Homo sapiens: one gene and its partner. The protein of the gene in region 1 purifies or fractionates together with the protein of each later gene. This does not show direct contact. Each region holds a gene or a part of one and is shown on either strand. Other genes may lie near its edges. The genes, in order: RUBCN and IQCB1.

Region 1 (3,822 bases):
TGGGCTCTGCTTCCAGATGTGTTGTTTTCATTCTCAGGTAGACTATTCTACAGGTTACCATAGCAACTCCAAGCTTAGCAATACCAGCAACAAGAAAGATGCAGTCCCAGCAGCTCCAGCAAAAGCAAAAATCCCGGGGCTGACTCTTTTTGGACTGACTTGAGTTATGTTTCTGTTCTTGTGGTCGGGGTATGGGCTATTCTGCTTAGTCAGGCCTAAGTTATGTGCCCAACCCTGGATCCTAAGGGAGGGTGAGATCTTGGAACCTCATGGACCAGAGTAAGTAGTAGAGAGGTGGTTCCTCAGTGGAAAATCAGGGTTCTCTTACCAAAATAAAGGGACAAATTCTGGGCAGATATAAAGTTTATTCACTGTAGACCCATATAATCTCTTCTTGGGGATTACCTCAGTAGCTTCTTAACTAATCTTCCAACCTGAATTTAGTCCCAATTCCAGATAGCCTCACCCTGCTACTAGTTTAATTTTTCAGAAACAAAGCTACTATAATATTTTACTCAGGGATGTTCAGTGATTGGCTGGATTTGGTGGCTCATGCCTGTCATCCCAGCTCACCCTGCTACTAGTTTAATTTTTCAGAAACAAAGCTACTATAATATTTTACTCAGGGATGTTCAGTGATTGGCTGGATTTGGTGGCTCATGCCTGTCATCCCAGCACTTTGGGAGGCTGAGGTGGGTGGGTCACCTGAGGTCAGGAGCTCAAGACCAGCCTGGTCAACATGGCAAAATGCTGTCTCTACTAAAAATACAAAAAATTAGCCAGATGTGGTTGTGCACCCCTGTAATCCCAGCTACTCAGGAGGCTAGGCAGGAGAATTGCTTGAACCTGGTAGGCGGAGGTTGCAGTGAGCCCAGGTGATGCCACTGCACTCCACCCTGGGCAACAGATCGAGACTGTCTCAAAAAACAGAACAAAACAAAAGCAGGGGCCGGACGCGGTGGCTCACGCCTGTAATCCCAGCACTTTGGGAGGCCGAGGCAGGCGGATCACAAGGTCAGGAGATCGAGACCATCCTGGCCAACATGGTGAAACCCCGTCTCTACTAAAAATACAAAAAAATTAGCCGGGCGTGGTGGCGGGCGCCTGTAGTCCCAGCTACTTGGGAGGCTGAGGCAGGAGAATGGCGTGAGCCCGGGAGGCAGAACTTGTAGTGAGCCGAGATCGCGCCGCTGCACTCCAGGCTGGGCGACAGAGCGAGACTCCGTCTCAAAAACAACAAACAAAACAAAACAAAAAAAACAAAAGCAATGTTCAGTGGTTTTCCCATTGAAAACAGAATATTTTCCATGTCAAAACTCCTCACCCTGGTATTGAATCTTTTTTTTTTTTTTTTGAGACGGAGTCTCGCTCTGTTGCCCAGGCCAGAAAGCAGTAGCACAATCTCGGCTCACTGCAAGCTCCGCCTCCCGGGTTCACGCCATTCTCCTGACCTCGTGATCCGCCCGCCTCGGCCTCCCAAAGTGCTGGGATTACAGGCGTGAGCCACCGCGCCCGGCCTGAATCTTTCTGTTAGTACTTAATGAAGTTTCCAATTACAAAACCATGGCACACTCACCCACTCTCACATCTTTCTTGCCATTCTCATTCTTGCTTTTCTACACTCACTGCAATACCTCCCTCTTTGCCTGGAGAGCTCTTAGTCGTCCCTTAAATGACGCTCCTTTAGAAGGCACCCCTCTCTGTTAGAGCACATCTGACATCTCCCTTCATAGCATGGTTATGTAAGTGTCCATTTCCCCCATTACGTTCTGAATTCTCTGACAGATGGGACTCTTCCTCTTTAACCGCTATAACGCTTCTTTAAGCACCAGTGCCTAGCCCAGTGCCTGACATATAGTTGGTGTTCAGTGAATATTTGTTTGAGGAATGAAGACATTAACGTTGTGGTCATCCCTCTTACAGATGGGCAGATGCTAGTGGAACTGTTGTCATTGGAAGTGCCACTTTCTTCGCATTTCTCCTATTCATTTTCACTTTTTCACGTTTTTATATTTCCTGTTTTCTTTCTTTCCCGTCCCTGTTTGATTATTCTAGGAGTTAACAGTTTACATAGAGCTAGTAGCAAAGCAGGATGATCACATGATTTTAAAGGAAACTAGCAATTGCTAGTTCGATTTTTAGTACAAAAATTACAGAAACATACCCTTGAAGCTTTTGGGGAAGCTGCTGTTGTCAGAACCCAGGAGGGGACTGCAAGGACTCTAAGCCTGAAGCTTTTCCTCTCCCCACAGCTGTTTTTGTTTTTTGAAGGGTTCTCACATTGTTGCCCAGGCTAGACTTGAACTTTTGAAGTCAGGCAATCCTCCTGCCTCAGCCTCCTGAGGAGCTGGGACTACAGGCATGTGCCACTGTGCCCAGCATAGGTCAGGCAGTCCTCCTGCTTCAGCCTCCTGAGGAGCTGGGACTACAGGCATGTGCCACTGTGCCCAGCATAGGTCAGGCAGTCCTCCTGCTTCAGCCTCCTGAGGAGCTGGGACTACAGGCATGTACCGCTGTGCCCAGCGTGCCTTTTACCTTTAAATCATCTACCTGAAACTGAAAAGACTGAAACACTTTGTCTTTCCTCCCGTGCCATTGCTATTAAAGTGGTGTTGTGTGCCTGCTTTACCTTGTTTGTAAAGCATTCTGCTACCTAGACAGTATAACATGAGCCTGGTGAAGTAATAAGATTGTCTTTCTTATATGTCTCATGAAATCAGCCTTATTGTGCCGCAGTAACACCTTGACAGTTTCTTCCATTCCGTCAAGCAGATTTAAGTCTTTACCATATAAAAGTCATATCCAGTATTTGAGGAAGTCCTTCCTAGCTTTCCTACTTCAGTGAGAGGACCAACAGCATCAACAGGGCCTTGCAATCCATGCTTACCTGCAGACCTGACCTTGGTTTAAACGCAGTGGAGATACTGTTTGGATGTGGAACACTGTAACCAAACTTCATTATGCTGCAGACTGTCCAATCCTTTACAATTTTTGGCAGAATTTTCTTTTTAAGCAGAATGGGTAAGAAGGCTTTATTCTAGGTACCCTTCCTGATTTTGTTGGATTTATTAGATTTATGCAATGGAAGTTCACAGGGGGAAAATGGCAGAGAAAAGAGAATATTATTCTCTGCTCTATGATAATGCTTCCCCTAGATTGTCAGTTACACCCTCCTCTGTGAAGCAATTGTTGTCTCCATTTTACAGTGAGGGAATTGAAGCTTCAAGAGTTTAAATGGCTTGGTCAAGAATGTGGATCTAGGCCAGGTGAGGTGGCTCACGCCTGTAATCCCAGCACTTTGGGAGGCTGAGGCAGGCAGATCACTTGAAGTCAAGAGTTCGAGACCAGCCTGGCCAACATGGTGAAACCCCATTTCTACTAAAAATACAAAAATTAGCTGGGCATGGTGTCAGGCACCTGTAATCTCAGCTACTTGGGAGGCTGAGGCAGGAGAATCATTTGAACCCGGGAGGCGGAGGTTGCAGTGAGCTGAGATCGCACCACTGCCCTCCAGCCTGGGCGACAGAGCAAAACTCAGTCTCAAAAAAAAAAAAAAAAATAGAATGTGCATCTAGTTTGTGAGCAGCTAAGATTCAAATTCAAATTCAGTTTAAATGACTATGATGTCTATTTTCTTTCTACTGGGTGACATTTTCTTCCTGCTTATTAAAATACAAAAGATCTGTAATCCCAGCACTTTGGGAGGCTGAGGCGGGCGGATCATGAGGTCAGGAGTTTGAGACCAGCCTGACCAACATGGTGAAACCCCGTCTCTACTAAAAAATACAAAAATTAGCTGGGTTTGGTGGTGGGTGCCTGTAA
Region 2 (3,822 bases), about 76 Mb from region 1:
AGTTAAAAGGTAAGAAAATCTTTTTGTGATTAGATAGCATTTTAAGTGAAAAATGGTTCCATCGTTGGTACAATTTTAACATTTCTTTTAAATTTGTTCAGAGAGGTCTTAACACTATAATAGAACAGTAATTTTTCCTTCTAATATATTTTTAGTGATTATTCAACATATAAAAATACAAATAGCTCCTGGATGTATTAAGCAAAAATAAATATATCTTATTTCCTTTTGCCTTAGAAATAATAAACATCACACCTTTAGGAAGCTCAGAGTTGAAGAAAATCAAACAAGATATATATTGTTATGATCTCATTCAATATTGCCTCTTGGTCCTCAGTCAAGATTATTCTCGAATCCAGGGTGGTTGGACTACAATTTCCCAGCTTACACAGATATTAAGGTAAAATAAAGCAGTAAGTCAGCTGTTCTTGAGGGATGTAGTAGTTGATTCTGATTTTCAACATTTGCTTTTTATTTATCTGCCTAACAAGCATTGGCAACCTCCTGTTGTAGGTTTTGGTTGTACTTTTCCTTCATATTATATGTTATTATTCATAATTTTACTTCAGATTATTTGACTGTCTAAAATTTTCCTCCACAAGCTTAATGAAGATGGTGATCATTTTTTTTCTCACCACTGAATTCCAAGTGCCTAATATACTTTTTATTGATTAAGGAATTTTTAAAGAAGTGAAGAAATTAAGGCACTGGCTCTGTACCTGAGAAACTTAAAATAGAGATTGGGTGACAGTCATGTAAGTATATGATACAAAGCAGAATGAAATCAGTGCTAAAATGAAAGTATGCAAGCAAGTACTATAGGAGAACTGATAAAGAAACATTTTATTTCACTATATCAATGTAGCTATCAACTGTGTATTTCATTAAGCAACCCAAATACTGTCAATAAAATTTAGAAGTAGAATTTACTGATCTACTGCCATGCTAGAAATTAATAGAAGAGAAATAAACATTTTTTAAAGGAGGTAGTAAAATAAACCAGATGTTCTTAGTGCCTAAGCTACTTCCTGATTAATAAGTGAAAGTGTGTATTTACTAACTGGATCCTAGCCTTCTTTTTTTGTTTTTCCTAAATAAGCCATTTGAATTTAATAAGCTATTCCCACTGAAAGGGTTTGTCTTGGATGCTAGATTTCTAAGCTGCTTAATCCTACTGTGTTACTTGGTAAAGGCCAAATTTAAAGCACACAGTTACAAAGAACAGTTGAAAAATATATGTGATATTCTTTTTCATACTTTAATTTTCAAGATTGATTTTCTTAAGTAAATAAAGCCTTATGTTTTTGTTTTGATTCGATATGCTAGTTTATGATGATATTGATTAAGCCAGGCTCTCGGGTGGAATTCAAGACTTAAGAAATTCCCATGTTTCTGAATGCACAAATAAACATAATTTCATTTGTTAATCTTCTCAATCAAAAAAGATACTCTTAAGTAATTAACTTTAGGAACCAAAGAGAAAAGAAAAGCTGATACATGTGAGCATTAGCCCATTAACTTTAGGAACCCAGGTGCAAATAAACAACAACAACAACAAAAAGTGATACATGTAAATATTATCCACTTAGGTTTTTTTTTAACTTTTATTTTAGGTTCAGGGGTACATGTGGAGGTTTGTTTTATAGGTAAATTGCATACTCAATGTTTGTTCTCACTTATAAGTGAGAATATGCAGTGTTTGGCTTTCTGTTCTTGTGTTAGTTCACTTAGGTTAATGGCCTTCAGCTCCATCCATGTTGCTGCAAAGGACATGATCTTGTTCTTTTTTATGGCTGCATAGTATTCCATGGTGTATATGTACCACCCCAAAGAAATATACCATTTTCTTTATCCAGTCTGCCATTGATTACTTAGATTTTTAACATGCTCAATACATAGTTGTTATTGCTTATTAGTGTCCATACATTTTGTTGAAAAGACTCAAACAGCAGTTTTTGTTCATTAGAGTACACACATAGAGACCATTCTTGGGTTTGAGGCTCTTTTGAATGTTAGTTTACAGAAAAACCTTTTATTATTGGGACTTCTGACTTATGTACAGGAAATGACTTTTATGTACAATTTTAAGAGGACCTTTTTCTCTAAGTGACTTTCTCTCCTCTAATGTATATTGTAAAGTGTTCCTACTAGAGTTAGGTTTTGCCGTTTGTCCTTCTGATATAAGGAATATGCAAATGAGTATTTTGCAAAAAGTAGATCTATTGGAAGGTAAAATTGGTATGAAATTAGTGTTTGGTTTCCTTATGTATCCCTTGCAAACAAATCCTACTTGGGCATTTTTCAGCTATTAGGTGTCTAAAATGTATTAGTTAACACAAATGCTTTTCATAAATTAAACTCTCAAGGTATCCTATAGCTTTGAGAATGATTATAGCCAATTCACTGAAAACTTAGCTTCTCTTTATTGTGAGCCAAGTGTCTTTTATTTGCTGAATGAGCTGATATGTAGGTTTTTAGGATACATAAATCCCAGACCTAAGTACAAGCATGGTCCATACCACTGTTTACTTTTCTAGAAAGTTGTTAGACTAATTTTTCAACAAAAATTCTTTATTGTCTTGGTAACAAAAGAAGCATACTAAAAATTCTCAATAAGGCACAGTGTCTCTAGAAGCTTGAGCATTCAACATAAACTTCTAATTAACACGAACTTGTGCTCTTATTTCAGCCATTGCTGTGTGGGCTTGGAGCCAGGAGAAGATGCAGAGGAATTTTACAATGAATTACTTCCATCAGCTGCAGAAAATTTTCTAGTTTTGGGGAGACAATTACAAACATGTTTTATCAATGCAGCTAAGGTATGTGTTTATTTAGTCTTTTGTAGCTAAATCAGTTTAATTCTTAAGAAGCTGTTCTGTTATTTTTTAAATGTGCAATATTTGGCTGAAAGTACAATTAAAGTAGTGAATTTAAACATTTTCAAAGTTACAACCTTCCAAAAATCATCTCTATGTTTGAAAAATTTTTAATGCTGACTGAAGCTTGCCATTTGATTTTTTGAAGGATCTGCCTTGCTACTTTACTTGTTGGGCAGCACCCATAGACAATTATTTCCATAACATCTTTCTAAACATACTTTTTACTTAAATTAACAGTAGAGGAAAGTATGTTCTCTAGGGCTAGGGCTTTTCTAAGTAGCTCCAGTAGTGAAGAATAAAGGTGAACTTCCTATTTGATCTCTCATATCTTCTCCAGTCAAAATATTCAACCCAAACATAGGGGTCTTTTCAAGTATTTCTTGGTTGCATTATGCTAGATGCTATACATGTGCTCTTTTTTTGACCCAGGGATTTAGAAGTGTGTTGCTTAATTTCCAAATATTTGAAGATCTACTAGATACTTTATTGTTATCAATTTCTAATTTAATTATGTTTTGGTCAGATAACATTCTCTATATCATTTCAATCCTTTGGAATTTTTTCAGACTTGTTTTATGGCCCTCCGCATATGTTTTATCTTTGTGAATGTTCATTAAAAGAAACTTTTGTGGGCTGGGCGCAGTGGCTCACACCTGTAATCCCAGCAGTTTGGGAGGCCGAGGCGGGCGGATCACCTGAGGTTGGGAGTTTGAGACCAGCCTGACCAACATGGAGAAACCCTGTCTCTACTAAAAATGCAAAATTAGCCGGGCATGGTGGCACATGCCTATAATCCCAGCTACTTGGGAGGCTGAGGCAGGAGGATCACTTGAACCCAGGAGGCAGAGGTTGCAGTGAGCCAAGATAGTGCCATTGCTCTCCAGCCTGGGCAACAAGAGCAAAACTCCATCTGAAAAAAAAAAAAAAAAGAAAAGAAAAAGAA

The links.
Region 2: the proteins of RUBCN (region 1) and IQCB1 purify together in Homo sapiens (affinity purification with mass spectrometry; one large-scale study listed by BioGRID and IntAct). This does not show direct contact.

The regions. Positions count from the first base shown.
Region 1 is NC_000003.12:197,726,678-197,730,499, reverse strand, and holds part of RUBCN (run domain Beclin-1-interacting and cysteine-rich domain-containing protein), read left to right. Parts: intron 1-3,822.
Region 2 is NC_000003.12:121,825,048-121,828,869, reverse strand, and holds part of IQCB1 (IQ calmodulin-binding motif-containing protein 1), read left to right. Parts: coding exon 1-9; intron 10-237; coding exon 238-400; intron 401-2,689; coding exon 2,690-2,819; intron 2,820-3,822. UniProt on the Homo sapiens protein: Involved in ciliogenesis. The function in an early step in cilia formation depends on its association with CEP290/NPHP6.